Linked DNA regions of Homo sapiens. The protein of the gene in region 2 purifies or fractionates together with the protein of the main gene of each other region. This does not show direct contact. Each region holds a gene or a part of one and is shown on either strand. Other genes may lie near its edges.

The links.
Region 1: the proteins of OR52W1 (region 2) and PROZ purify together in Homo sapiens (affinity purification with mass spectrometry; 2 studies listed by BioGRID and IntAct, with this or other methods). This does not show direct contact.

The regions. Positions count from the first base shown.
Region 1 is NC_000013.11:113,161,615-113,168,655, reverse strand, and holds part of PROZ (vitamin K-dependent protein Z isoform 2 precursor), read right to left. Parts: intron 5,648-7,041; coding exon 5,534-5,647; intron 4,144-5,533; coding exon 4,012-4,143; intron 3,655-4,011; exon of another isoform or gene 3,604-3,654; coding exon 3,536-3,603; exon of another isoform or gene 3,473-3,535; intron 2,559-3,472; coding exon of another isoform or gene 2,487-2,558; exon of another isoform or gene 2,417-2,486; intron 1-2,416. UniProt on the Homo sapiens protein: Appears to assist hemostasis by binding thrombin and promoting its association with phospholipid vesicles. Inhibits activity of the coagulation protease factor Xa in the presence of SERPINA10, calcium and phospholipids.
Region 2 is NC_000011.10:6,194,714-6,200,717, reverse strand, and holds OR52W1 (olfactory receptor 52W1), read right to left. Parts: upstream 1,495-6,004; coding exon 532-1,494; downstream 1-531. UniProt on the Homo sapiens protein: Odorant receptor.

The DNA.
Region 1 (7,041 bases), on a different chromosome or scaffold from region 2:
GAAACATGAAAACAATACACAGTATAATTAAATTCAAAATCCATGATAGAGGAAATCTTAGAAAGTTAAAATTAAAAAGCATTTAAAATCTTAAAAGTGCCACAGGTAAGGACATGTGAGGAACAGCAGCAGGGTGATGGGAGCCGTCTTGTGGCACAAGGCAGACAGGAAGGCAGTGGGGCAGGCCCAAGTGCAGAGAGGAGAGGACTGCTGCCAGCCTGGGGCTCTGCGCCAGACGCAATGCCTTTCATAGATGAAGATGAACAAAGACTCCTCCAGACAAACGCAAGAAGGCTTCTTCCCCAGACGCCTCACAGCACAGCAGATATCAAAGGGGCCCTTTAGGCAGGAGGAAAACGATACCAGAGGGAGGCCTGGATTTACACAAAGCAGCAAGGAACACTGGAAAAGGTTATGACATCCCATTAAATATTTATCCGCATTCCACTATATATGTAAGGTTTTTTTCCTTATTCTTTAAACTTCTTTACAGGATACTGTTTAAACAAAAATAATGGAAGTATAGAGTGGCATTTATAACATCTGTAGATGTAAGACCTATGCCAAAACCAGCACCCAGGTCAGGAGGGGAGGAATGGGGCATGATTGCTGTAAGGACTCATGCTACAGCGAGCGGATGTGGCGTCGGCGAAAGTGGAGTGGACTGTGATAGGGTAAAGATGCATTCTCCAAACTGTGAAGCAACCGCCAACAAAGAACCAGAGATGATAAACCAACAAAGGAGAGAAAACAGAATCATAACAATATATAGTTAATCTAACAGAAGGCAGAAAAAGGGGAAAAGAACAGATAAGAAAAATAAAAGATAGCAAGATGATAGCTTTAACCGTAAACATATCGACAATTACAATAAATGTAAAATGGCCTAAATACCCCAATTAAAAGGCAGAGGTTTTTCACACTGGATAAAAATGAAAGCCAATTATATACTACCTATAAAACATGTACCTTATTTATTTTTTAAACATGCACTTTATAAAAATACAAATAGGCTAAAAGTAGAAGATTGGAAAAAGATAAGTCATGCTAACACTAATAATTAGAAAGTAAAGTGTCTATATCAATATCAGACAAAGGGGATTTTAGAGCAAATAATATTACCAGGGATACAAAAGGAGAAAACGAGAAGTTGTTTGAAAGATTAAATGAAATAAAGCATGTGCCCACATAGCACGGGTACTGGCTCTGGAAGTGTTAAGTGTTGCAGTTTTCAACCGTCTAATGCAAAATGCTGAGCCAAGTGAGAAAGTGTTTTTCCAACTTTACCGTGGCGTCGTTCCTGGAACTCTTCATGTGTTTATGAATAATAGCTGCCACTTGTTGAATACCTACCATAAGTCAAGAACGTTATCTGTAATCCTCACTGCACCTCTAGGGGTGAGATCCTCACTTTAAAGGGGATAAAACCAAGTTCGAGAGAAGACGGCACTTGCGCCATCAGTCTGCCAGACTTTTAGTGATACTTCTTCCCTAGGATGTAAGAAACAAGGAAGTTCTAAAGATAATCTTCAACCCTATGTCCTGCTAGGTCACTTAATTATTCTCCTTTTCAAAGTTTGTTTTAGGAAAATTCCATATATTCAGTTAAATAACTTCAGAACAATTTATAATACTGAAGTAAAAAATCTAATAGTATGTAGCCTGCCTAAGTCAGTGTCCTCTGTCTTAAACACACCAGCTGTGTTTAGAGAATGCCTCCTCCCTGGTTATATGGCTCTTAGCCTTGCTGGTATGAGTGCTACGGTTGCAGACTAGAACCGCACCCTCTCTTCCCTTGGGTAAGCTGGGAAGCTGGAGACAGCCTGCAGGTGGTAGAGCCAGACCCTGTCACTACCTATGGAGGACCACTGCACTCTGGGCCTCCCAAGTACCGACCCTCAGCGCACTCATGGGGCAGACAGCGATAGGAAGAACTGTCTTAGAAAGCTTGGGCAGGAAAAGTGATAAAAGATTGAGAGGAAGTTTGCAAAGCTGGTGATAGACCATTCCCGCTTCCATCCCCGCCTTCCATCACTCCGTCTGCTTTGCCTCCCTTCGGTTTCTTCCTCTCCACCTTGGAGCTGGGTGGCTTCAAGTCCTTGAGCTCCATCCTGTTCTCTGCCAGTCCACACAACTGCCAGAATGAGTGGGCTGGGCACAGCTGTCTTGTAAGAGTCGGGTGAAACTGACGGGTGTCACACACAGAAACCTCAGGGGCTTATTACTCACAAGGGGGGCCCCTGAGGCTGTGCCATCCACACGGCAGCCACACTCGGGTACGGAGCATTGTGGACACGAGGGCTGCACCTCAGTGTAAATTCACACCAGATTCCAAAGATTCAGTGTAAAGGAAAAAGGCAAATAACCTCAATAATGTTTATATTCATTACATGGGGAAATAATGACACATATTGGGTTAAATATCCAAATTTCACATGCTTTTACTTACATTATTGTGGCTACTAGAAAATTTTAAATTATGTGGTTTACACTGCATTTCTATTGGACAAGGCTGTTCTGAAGGATATACTCAGGCAGGAGATAATTGTGTTAGAGGCCTGAAAGGCAAGGAAAGTGGAAAATGAGGTAAGTAAATCAAAGCCAGTGTGGGTGGTATAAAACCATAATAACAAAAATCGTAATATCTATTTTGTGAAGATATACAGAAAGCAAGAAAAGAATAAAATACTGGCCAGACAGCAAATGGACCCAGAATGAGGTGCTGGGAATTAGCCTGAGGAGGGAGAAATAGCTGACTACTTGTGCTAAATATGGATGTTTATGTGTCAAGAGTGACCATTAAGTAAACAGAAAGTGAATGATGAGGCCAGGCGTGGTGGCTCACGCCTGTAATCCCAGCACTTTGGGAGGCCAAGGCAGGTGGGTCACTTGAGGTCAGGCATTCGAGACCATCCTGTCCAACATGGTGAAACCCCGTCTCTACTAAAAATATAAAAATCAGCCGGGCGTGGTGGCACATTCCTGTAATCCCAGCTACTCAGGAGGTGGAGGCAGGGAAAGCGCTTGTGCCCAGGAGGCAGAGGTTGCAGTGAGCCGGGACTGGACCACTGCACTCCAGGCTGGGTGACAGATTGAGACTCCATCTCAAAAAAAACAAACCAAAAACAAATGAATGGTTAACTTCTAAACCAGCCAAGGAGGGGAAAAGGAGAACAAAAATGAATGCCAAACTAGAGAAATTTAGTGAACAAAGTAACAAAGCTAGAATGCCAGGCCAGCAGCCGAGAGCAGAGATTTTGAGATGCTTATGTTCTGAGAAAATGACATTGGTAACAGTTTGGAACTGCAGAGGAAAGGTCTTGGGGGCTGTAAATAATGCTGTCCTTTTGTATTAGTTATGAACTCGGCATTAGAACATGGTTGGAAGTGTGAATAGAGGTTGGTCAGTGCAGTCAGTAGCCCATCAAAGTCAGGATGCCTGATTCACTTAGTTGTCAACATTTCTATTTAGGAAATGACAAGTGAGGTGAAAGTCATAACAATAAATTGAAGCACGCGGAGAGCGCTCTGTTACCTGCCACGGGAGGTCCTGTAGATCCGGTGCACGCTTCTCAGAGGTCAGCACCCCGCAGGCACACTGGTCTGCATTTGCGGCAGCAACATGAGAATAAAAATCAGCGCCTTCTCAGCGAATATCGGACTCTGTCTATGGTGTTAACCGTTGCATAATTCCGTCTATGGTACTAACCATTATAATCTTATCCTTAATGCTGATGAATGTGCAGTAATTCACAGACACACAGACTGGAGTTAAACCACCCCTCACAGCACTCATGGTTTAGCTCAGAGTGGTCCGAGCAAGCACTAGTGACAGAAACTGCACTTTCTAGCATGGCCATTGCTCCAGCGTGGAGACGCGGACCACCTTCTGAGTCGTGGCAACTGCTTATCACAAATCCGCGGGCTTCACCCAGTACTACAGAAGGAAGGAGGATGTGGACGGGGTCGCTGGCATTGGAAGCTGGAGGCCGCTGTGGTCTGAGCACTCACCGTGGGGCACACACTGTTTGTGGTCCTCACCAAGCCTGTAGCCCTGAGCACAGCTGCATGTGTAGGATTCCTGTCCTGGGAGGCAGAAGTGTTGACACCCATCAGTCCGCTCTGGGTGACATTCATTTTTAGCTGAAAAGGAAAAAAAAAAAAGGAAATGCTAGCTTGGAAATAGTCATTTTATCACAGCCTTGCACACAGTTCTGTGTGTTGGTCCATGTTCATTTTATCACAGCCTTGCACACAAGAGTTCTGGTGTGTTGGTCCATGTGTTCTCATTCTCTTCAGATCGTTGTCCTCTGTGTCAGTGTTTCCCACATGTCCGTATTTCAGGAATGTGCATGTAGAACAAAGACTCCGTGAGTGAGGCCGGGCGCGGTGGCTCATGCCTGTAATCCCAGCACTTTGGGAGGCCGAGGTGGGCGGATCACGAGGTCAGGAGATCAAGACCAGCCTGGCCAACATGGTGAAACCCCATCTCTACTAAAAATACAAAAATTAGCCAGGCGTGGTGGCGCGTGCCTGTAGTCCCAGTTACTCGGGAGGCTGAGGCAGGAGAATCACTTGAACCCAGGAGGCAAAAGGTTGCAGTGAGCTGACATCGCGTCACTGCACTCCAGCCTGGCGACAGAGCGAGACTCCATCTCAAAAATAAAATAAAAATTAAAAAAAAAAAAAGACTCCATGAGTGATGACACTTCTATTTGTCCTTTTTCCACATGGACTAATCCACGCGCCTGTTTTGTCTGCCGGCTTGCATTGGCTATTCCCTTTAAATTGCTGCTTCTTCAAGGAGGGGACGTGGGATGGGAGGGGGTTAGTGTGACATCGGTGGTGGCTGAGCAGCTGGGATGGGGGCTTTCCACCAAGAGGGAGAAGATTAAGAAAGGGGCACATGGTGGGTGAAGGTCAAAGCCCCCTTTGGTACGTGGTAAATTTGGGGTGTCTGTGAAGGCATTAGCTGGGGCATCAAGGAGGCAGATGGAGCAGAAATCTGGACTTCGGAGGAGAGGGCTCGGCTGGGAGGAAGGTTTTCCCCAGAGAAACGGGCTCCAAGTTGACCAGTGGTGCTGAGAGCGGAGCACGCTTGTTGCTGTAGTTGGCGATGATGGACACTGACATTTGGCGGGTATTTAAGGATATTTGTTTACGTGCTTTGCGTCTTCCCTGTCTGCAGTCTCCCACTGGGAGTCTGGCACTGAGGACGCCTGTGTGTGACCCCCCCAGCCTGTGAGCAGATTGTGAATGGTTGAGGTGGTGGGGGGAGGAGAGGGGCCCCTGCTATGAAAAGTATGGGGGCCTGTCTGGAAGGGGCAGCTCAGAATGCAGCCAGCCCCCGGCGTGGTTTCTGGAGGAGAATCTGGTTGGGATGAGAGGAATCCCCTGGGGTGAGCCAAATCGCGGTTCACACAGGCACCTTCATGGCTACACCTCAGGAGGGGCCCATTGGGACTCTGGCCGAGGATGTGAGGCCCACCTGCCCAGGGAGGCCCTTGGGGGAAGGGGACGGCCGGGGCCTCACCCAGCTCGCAGTTGCTGCCCTCATAGCCGGGGGAGCAGGTGCAGGTGTAGCCCCAGATGCTGTCCTGGCAAGAGCCGTTGTGGAGGCAGGGCTGGGAGATGCACGGGGAGCCGCCTGCAGGAGGAGGATGGGGGTTGGGGTGGTGGTGACAGGAACGGGGACCTGAGCAGGAGGAGGGTGGGGGTGGTGACAGGAATGGGGACCTGAGCAGGAGGAGGATGGAGTGGGGGGTGGCAGCAGGGACGGGGACCTGAGCACCTGAGCAGGAGGAGGGTGGGGTGACAGGAACAGGGACCAGAGCAGGAGGAGGACAGAGTGGAGCAGGGACGGGGACCTGAGCAGGAGGAGGATGGGGGGACGTGGCAGGGACGGGGACCTGAGCAGGAGGAGGATGTGGGGAGGTGGCAGGGACGGGGACCTGAGCAGGAGGAGGATGTGGGGAGGTGGCAGGGACGGGGACCTGAGCAGGAGGAGGATGTGAGGAGGTGGCAGGGACGGGGACCTGAGCAGGAGGAGGATGAGGGGACGTGGCAGGGACGGGGACCTGAGCAGGAGGAGGATGTGGGGAGGTGGCAGGGACGGGGACCTGAGCAGGAGGAGGATGTGGGGAGGTGGCAGGGACGGGGACCTGAGCAGGAGGAGGATGTGGGGAGGTGGCAGGGACGGGGACCTGAGCAGGAGGAGGATGTGGGGAGGTGGCAGGGACGGGGACCTGAGCAGGAGGAGGATGAGGGGACGTGGCAGGGACGGGGACCTGAGCAGGAGGAGGATGTGGGGAGGTGGCAGGGACGGGGACCTGAGCAGGAGGAGGATGTGGGGAGGTGGCAGGGACGGGGACCTGAGCAGGAGGAGGATGTGGGGAGGTGGCAGGGACGGGGACCTGAGCAGGAGGAGGATGGGGGGACGTGGCAGGGACGGGGACCTGAGCAGGAGGAGGATGTGGGGACGTGGCAGGGACGGGGACCTGAGCAGGAGGAGGATGTGGGGACGTGGCAGGGACGGGGACCTGAGCAGGAGGAGGATGGGGGGAGGTGGCAGGGACGAGGACCTGAGCAGGAGGAGGATGTGGGGACGTGGCAGGGACGGGGACCTGAGCAGGAGGAGGATGTGAGGAGGTGGCAGGGACGAGGACCTGAGCAGGAGGAGGATGTGGGGAGGTGGCAGGGACGGGGACCTGAGCAGGAGGAGGATGGGGGGAGGTGGCAGGGACGGGGACCTGAGCAGGAGGAGGATGTGGGGACGTGGCAGGGACGGGGACCTGAGCAGGAGGAGGATGGGGGGACGTGGCAGGGACGGGGACCTGAGCAGGAGGAGGATGTGAGGAGGTGGCAGGGACGGGGACCTGAGCAGGAGGAGGACGGGGGGGCAGGGGGTGGCAGGAATGGGGACTGAGCCTGCTCATGCTGCTCCCCATGCCATCGCCTGGCCCCCAGGACGCTCCCCGCTCCGGATGTAAGGCCTGGCTGCCAGTGCCTCCCACTCTGCTGGGTGCCCTTTCTTCGTCCGCA
Region 2 (6,004 bases):
TTAGTTTATCGGAAGGCAGGAGATGAGCCTGTAGAACTCGTTTCCTGAGGGCAGTCTGAAAACAGAATCTGGCTCCAGGAGTAGAGAGGGCTGTGATTTCAGACGGGTGCCCAAGCACTTGACTCCAGGGACAGCGCCACCCTCTGCGGCAGTGCCAAGCACTTCCCTCAAGTTTGGGATCTATAGAGGAGCTTTTGTGTGGAAACGTGGGCAGACTTAGGTTGAAATAATGGAGGTGGGGAGCAGGAAAGGGAGTTGTTAGATCTTGTTTATTATGGTCCTTCACTAATTTTTCCTGCATGGTAGTGTAGCCCCCTGACCTCTACCTCCTGCCTCCTCCCAAGCAGAATACATGTTTAAGTCAAAGTCTACAGATGCCAGTGTTGCACATAGGGACTCCACAGCAAGTACCTGTTAAATGATGATAACAGTCATATGCAGTGGGATGAAAATAACATGATCCACACCCCCAGACTCCCCTCCGATTGTCCCCTCACCTCCACTCTTAGGCTCCATTGTTACCACTGGACATTACAACGGGCTTTTTCTGAATGTGAAGGTTTCCAGGAGTCGGTCTCTGATCTGCTTGGTGCGGGCCCCATAGATGAGGGGGTTGAGGGCAGGTGGCAGCAGCAAGTAGATGTTGGAGAGAAGGATGTGCACAGGCTTTGGGACAGTGTGATGACCAAAGCGGTGTGTGAGGTAGGAGAAGAGACCAGGTATGTAGAAGGCCAGAATGACACAGATGTGAGAACTACATGTACCAAAGGCCTTGGCATGGGCCTCCCGGGTAGGTAGCTGCAGCACAGCATGGGCAATGAGTCCATAGGAGCCAGTGATACCCAGAATATCCATACCTGAGATGGCCAGTGAAAGTGCCAGACCATATAAGTTGGTGGCCTGTGTGTTACCCACCACCAGTTCTACCACTGCCATGTGTGCACAATAGGTATGGCCTATGGTCTTGGCTTGGAAGTGCTCAAACTTTGCCACCAGCAGTGGGAAAGGTACAACAATAGCCACAGCTTTCAGTGCCAGGGCCAAGGCTGCATAACCCACACAGGCTTTGGTGACCAGGACAGGGTAGTGCAGTGGACGCCCTATTGCCGCAGCACGATCACAGGCCATGGCCAAAAGCACACCTGATTCCATGGCAGTCAGTGCATGTACAAAGAACATCTGGACCAGGCACACAGCATATGGCACAGATCGGGGCCCAAGCCACAGCACAGCCAGCAACCCTGGGGCTATAGATGTGGCTAAGCCCAGGTCTGTGGCTGCCAGGATGGCCAACAGTAGAAACATGGGCTGGTGCAGTGTGGAGTCTATCCACACCACTGCCGGCAGTGCTCCATTGCCCAGCAGGGCCAGCAGATAAATGGGCCCAAAGACCAGTGTCAGCCAAGTCTGGGCACTTCCTAGCCCTGGAAAGCCAGTCAGTATGAAGAAGTTTGGGTGTAGGAAGGTGGAATTGAGTTGTAGAGTTTCTGCCATTCTGTGGTGGGCACAACTTGAGGGCTCATGGGGGCATGACTCCTGACAGGGAAGATAAGGGGAGAGATTTTGGGGGTCTCACAGTGGCACAAACCCATCCATGGCATACGTGTAGGAGTAGTGCAGGGCTGGGAGGATCACAGGTTTATAACTTTTGGTTAGGGGGGTTTGGATGGATAATTAAGGTCGCAATTCTAGCTAAGATAGGAGAATCCTTTGCTCCTAAAAGTCTATATGTATTGTAGTGGGAGGAAGGGGTAGTGAGGAAGAGGCTGCCTGCTGCAGTGGTTGGTATAGATAGCCTGAGAGAGCCTTCTAATTGGATGTCAGCAGAGGGTGGAGTGGAGATGAATACTTTTCTTCCTCAGGGTCCAAATAGAGTCAGTCTCAGTCTCTATATGAGGAGAAAGCCAGTGCTGGGGGCAGGGTGGGGAATCAGGCTTCCGGCTGTCCTGTCCCTGCCTGTGTATCCTTGGGCAAGATCTCTGGACCTCAGCTTCTTCAGCTGTATAGGCCTGGTGGGTACAGTGATATTAAGGTTTGCCCAGCTCTGAGCAATTGCCCATTCTCAGCACCAACCATCCAGGAAGAGAGGAGGCAGAGTATAAAGAAAGGGAGAAACCGTAGTGGGAGGCAGATGGAATCTGGAGTGAATCTGGGAGCTTGGTGTGGCAAGGGAAAACTTGCTGGGTTTTTGGGGTGCAGGGTGCTTACGTTCTGAACTTGATGCTGAACACCAGCTGGAGAGTTGAAGTTGGGGCTGGGAAGCAACAGAGAGAGAGATGGCAGTACGAAACGGGACTTTTCTTCTCCGTTTCCTTTCCTTCTTCACGGTACAAAAGTGGGTCCCACTAGAGTCTCATTCCTGGCATGCCAGAGCGAGTGGAGGTGACATAGAGGGAGAAAATGGCACTCAACTCAGAGTAGCAGCCATCTGAGGAAGAAGCATCTCTGACATTGGAGGAGGCAGGACAAGTAGATTGACTTAGGTGGGATCCAGCCCACCTAAGAAGCTTAATACATGTTGAATGGATAAATGAATGAGGAAGAAATCACCAGCAGAAGGCTTGACTGGGAAAGATCTCGAGCACTGTGTGTTGGCAGCTTCTCTTCGCTTTAATCAGTGCCTGTGGGGCTCTTTATGTGGCTGTTCTACCTGCTTCCCTCAGGGCCTTTCTCCCTCCCACCTGTGCCACATTAACTCTGTTTTGTATCTCTTTGCTCAGTGCTGATGGGCTGGTGACTCAGGAAGTAGAGTAAGGAGGCAGAGATGGGGGCAAGCCAGGAAAGAGACTATCAGGTGGAAAGATCTGGGCAAGGAACACTTTCTCAGGGAGGTCTTTGCTGGCTCACTGAAGTCCGGGAGAAAATTCCTTGGTTTATTCTTTAATAGCATCTAGCCCACTCTGTTGTAATTTCTTGTCTCTCAATTCCCCACGAGACAAAAAGAGTTGCAGATATTGCTTTTTATTAGCTACAGTGTCTCTACTGCTTACCACAATGTCTGGCATGTAGTTAGCTATGAATAAATATATATTGCTTTTAAGTGTGGGACAGACTGCTAGTCCAAACAGCTTTTGCTGACTAATAGGGGCTCCTACAGTTTCAGGAGCTTTAGATATCCATGAAGAAAAAGAATTATTCACCATCAACCACAAGTCTACTGAATACAGTTCTTTCTATTATAAGGAGACTTAAACTCACCACACTATGTAAAGTCATACAATAAAGACCACAGGGCCTATTGGAAAAATGAAGTTAGGGGCACAACACTCAAAAACTTCATCAGTGACACATTTGAAAAAAAGATGGGCTGGGCACAGTGTCTCACACCTGTAATCCCAGCACTTTGGGAGGCCAAGACAGGAAGATCACTTGAGCCCAGGAGTTGGAGACCAGTCCGTGCAACACAGTGAGAGCCCATCTCTACAAAAAAATTAAAAAAATTAGCCAGCCACAGTGGTGTGCACTGGTACTTCTACCTACTCGAGAGGCCGAGGCAGGAGGATCACTTGATCCCAGGAGTTCAAGGCTACAGTGAGCTATAATCATGCCATGCACTCCAGCCTGGGTGATAGAGTAAGACCCTGTCTCTAAAAAATAAATCCAATAAAATGAAATTGGGCAGAAAGTTGTAATACCAGATGTGAATGGGTGTGGCTCATAACGCAAGTGGTGAACTGAAGTAGCTGATCGATGTTTGAGGTGTGTGCATGTGTGCATGTTGAGCTTTCTTACTCAGCTCAGTTCAGCTGGGTTCAGTTTTCTGGGTTCACCTACTTTCTTGGAAGTGGAGTTACATGCAAGCAAACACGAAATTCACATTATTCTCAGTCCCCTAATACATATGTCAATTGTCTTTGAATAATTTGTATTTTAAAACTAGCATTATAGCAGAACTAGTTGAATCTCTTTTCTGCCTGGCCTTGTGTCATGTGGTGAGAATACAGTGGCAATAACAAGACCCTGCTGCTCTCAAGGAGTTCACAGTCTAATGGACACAGTGATCTAAACAGTTGTCGAAGGGTTGTTAAAGTAATTGCCTTAACTCAAGTCAATACCAGATACGATGGCAGCACAGAGAAAGAAGACTTTCACTCTTGCTGGGGGAGTCAGGGAAATGTCTGAATCATAGTAGTGGTTAAAAGTCTTGTGGGGTTTCCTGTGTACGTGCACTGCTCTAAGCCTTGACCTCACAACAGTCATTTGAGGTGGGCACAATTCTTTCTTCCATTTTACAAAAGAAACTAAGAGACAGACGTTAACTTGGGGAAGGTCATATAGCTAGTAAATAGCAGAGTTAGGATACTAACTCTGTCTGGCTCTAGCATACTTGCTGTTAGCCACTACCTCAAAAATTGTAGCTGAGGTTTAGAACATGAGTTTTTAGAATAGGTGGAGCAAAATGCACCCATTCCTGGGAGAAGGAGTTCAGGAGATTTTGGGATTGGCAGGTGATCCTAGGATTGCTGAATGGAGAGATGTACAAAGAGCTGTAATTATGTGGCAGTAAATGGTGAGCTGTCATCAGTTCAGGGAGGAGAGGAGTACTGAGCAGGTGGGAGCAGTCGGTTAAGAGCCATGAAGGAGAGGGTTAGGAAAAAGTGCTCTTGTCTTCAAGAGAACACTAATGGAACTTTTGACTGCCTTGGACACTTGCTCTTTGTGCAAAGATTGTTTGTAAGGTAAATTACAGAATCCATAAGCCCAAAAAGTCCAAATTTGAAGTCATTGGGTTCTTGGAAATCTACTGTGTTATGCATTTCCCATTCTCCAGTAATCCAAGATACACTGGGAGATATCATAGACTTCGTCTTTAGAAGGTTCCTTGGTTAGTCTCCCAAGCTCCAGTTCATACTTATAGAAGCTATCTAAGCACATCTTGGGAACCAACTGGCTGGTCTTTTCCTGTGACGTTGACCATTAGAGGAGGGGATCTGACACCTGTGATCTGGGGGCTATATACCAGAGCCTGCTCCCCAGAGCAGGGTGTCAGCTCTCTGTGAGGAGTTGGGTGGGGTAGGGAGAGGGGAGGCTTGTTGGATTTCTTAGTTGCTGTTAGACTGACAAGAAAAATAGGATAGGAGGGTTCTGTCTGGAGACTGACTCTGATTTTCTCACATTTTTGGCTAGTGCAGCTACCACCAACATCTATAGAATAGGGTTCTTAGATAACAGCTGGCTCCATGTGGGCCTGTTCTATTGTTTTCCGCTTAAAATGATCCATGAGCAAGAACACATATGAGTAGCTTATTACTTTACATGATAGATTACAGATCAGAAATCTTGGGTCCTCGCGGTGTTGTACAGCACTAAATCCTCTTCTGGAAACCTACTAAAGCAAACTCAATTGTCAAATCCCAATTCCTGGGTCAGTATGAGATCCTTTTGTGACTAATGGTAGCATAGTAGCCCAGGCCTCCTTCACTCAGTTTCAGGAGAGGTAGAGAGACCCTGTAAGATCAGGTTTGCCCTACCCTATGGAGATGTGGAAGGAGTCGTGGAACCACTATGCCCATTCTTCTAGTATTAGTTTTACTCCTCTACTTCATGCTTCCCAGCCCTTCCATGAGCAGGTCCTTAGTATTCCATAAAGCTCTGGAGCACTGGGCATCCCCAGTTCCTAGGAGGATAGTAGATGTGCTTGCATTGAGGTTGTAGATTTGAGAAGGGAATTGTTCTCCCTCTCCATCACAGTAGGATCTTCCAGAAGTCAGATTATGGTAGGGGTATGGAATAGATCACATCTAGTTTTTAATTAAACCTCTTTCGATCTTGTCTACTCTCCTTATCCATGTCTCCTTCCTCTGCAATAGGGTCATTCCTTCCAATCCCAGAATCTCTGGGACTGACACTAACTTTGACCATATATAGAAGTGACTCTATGCATGCGGAGGTCACAGTTGCCATCTTTGTTTCCGGGGCAACGCTATACCTGTAAAATTGGGTTAGGACCCTGATACTCTCTTAACTTAGCAAATCATTCTATTCCTTCAAGAGATGTTTTTGA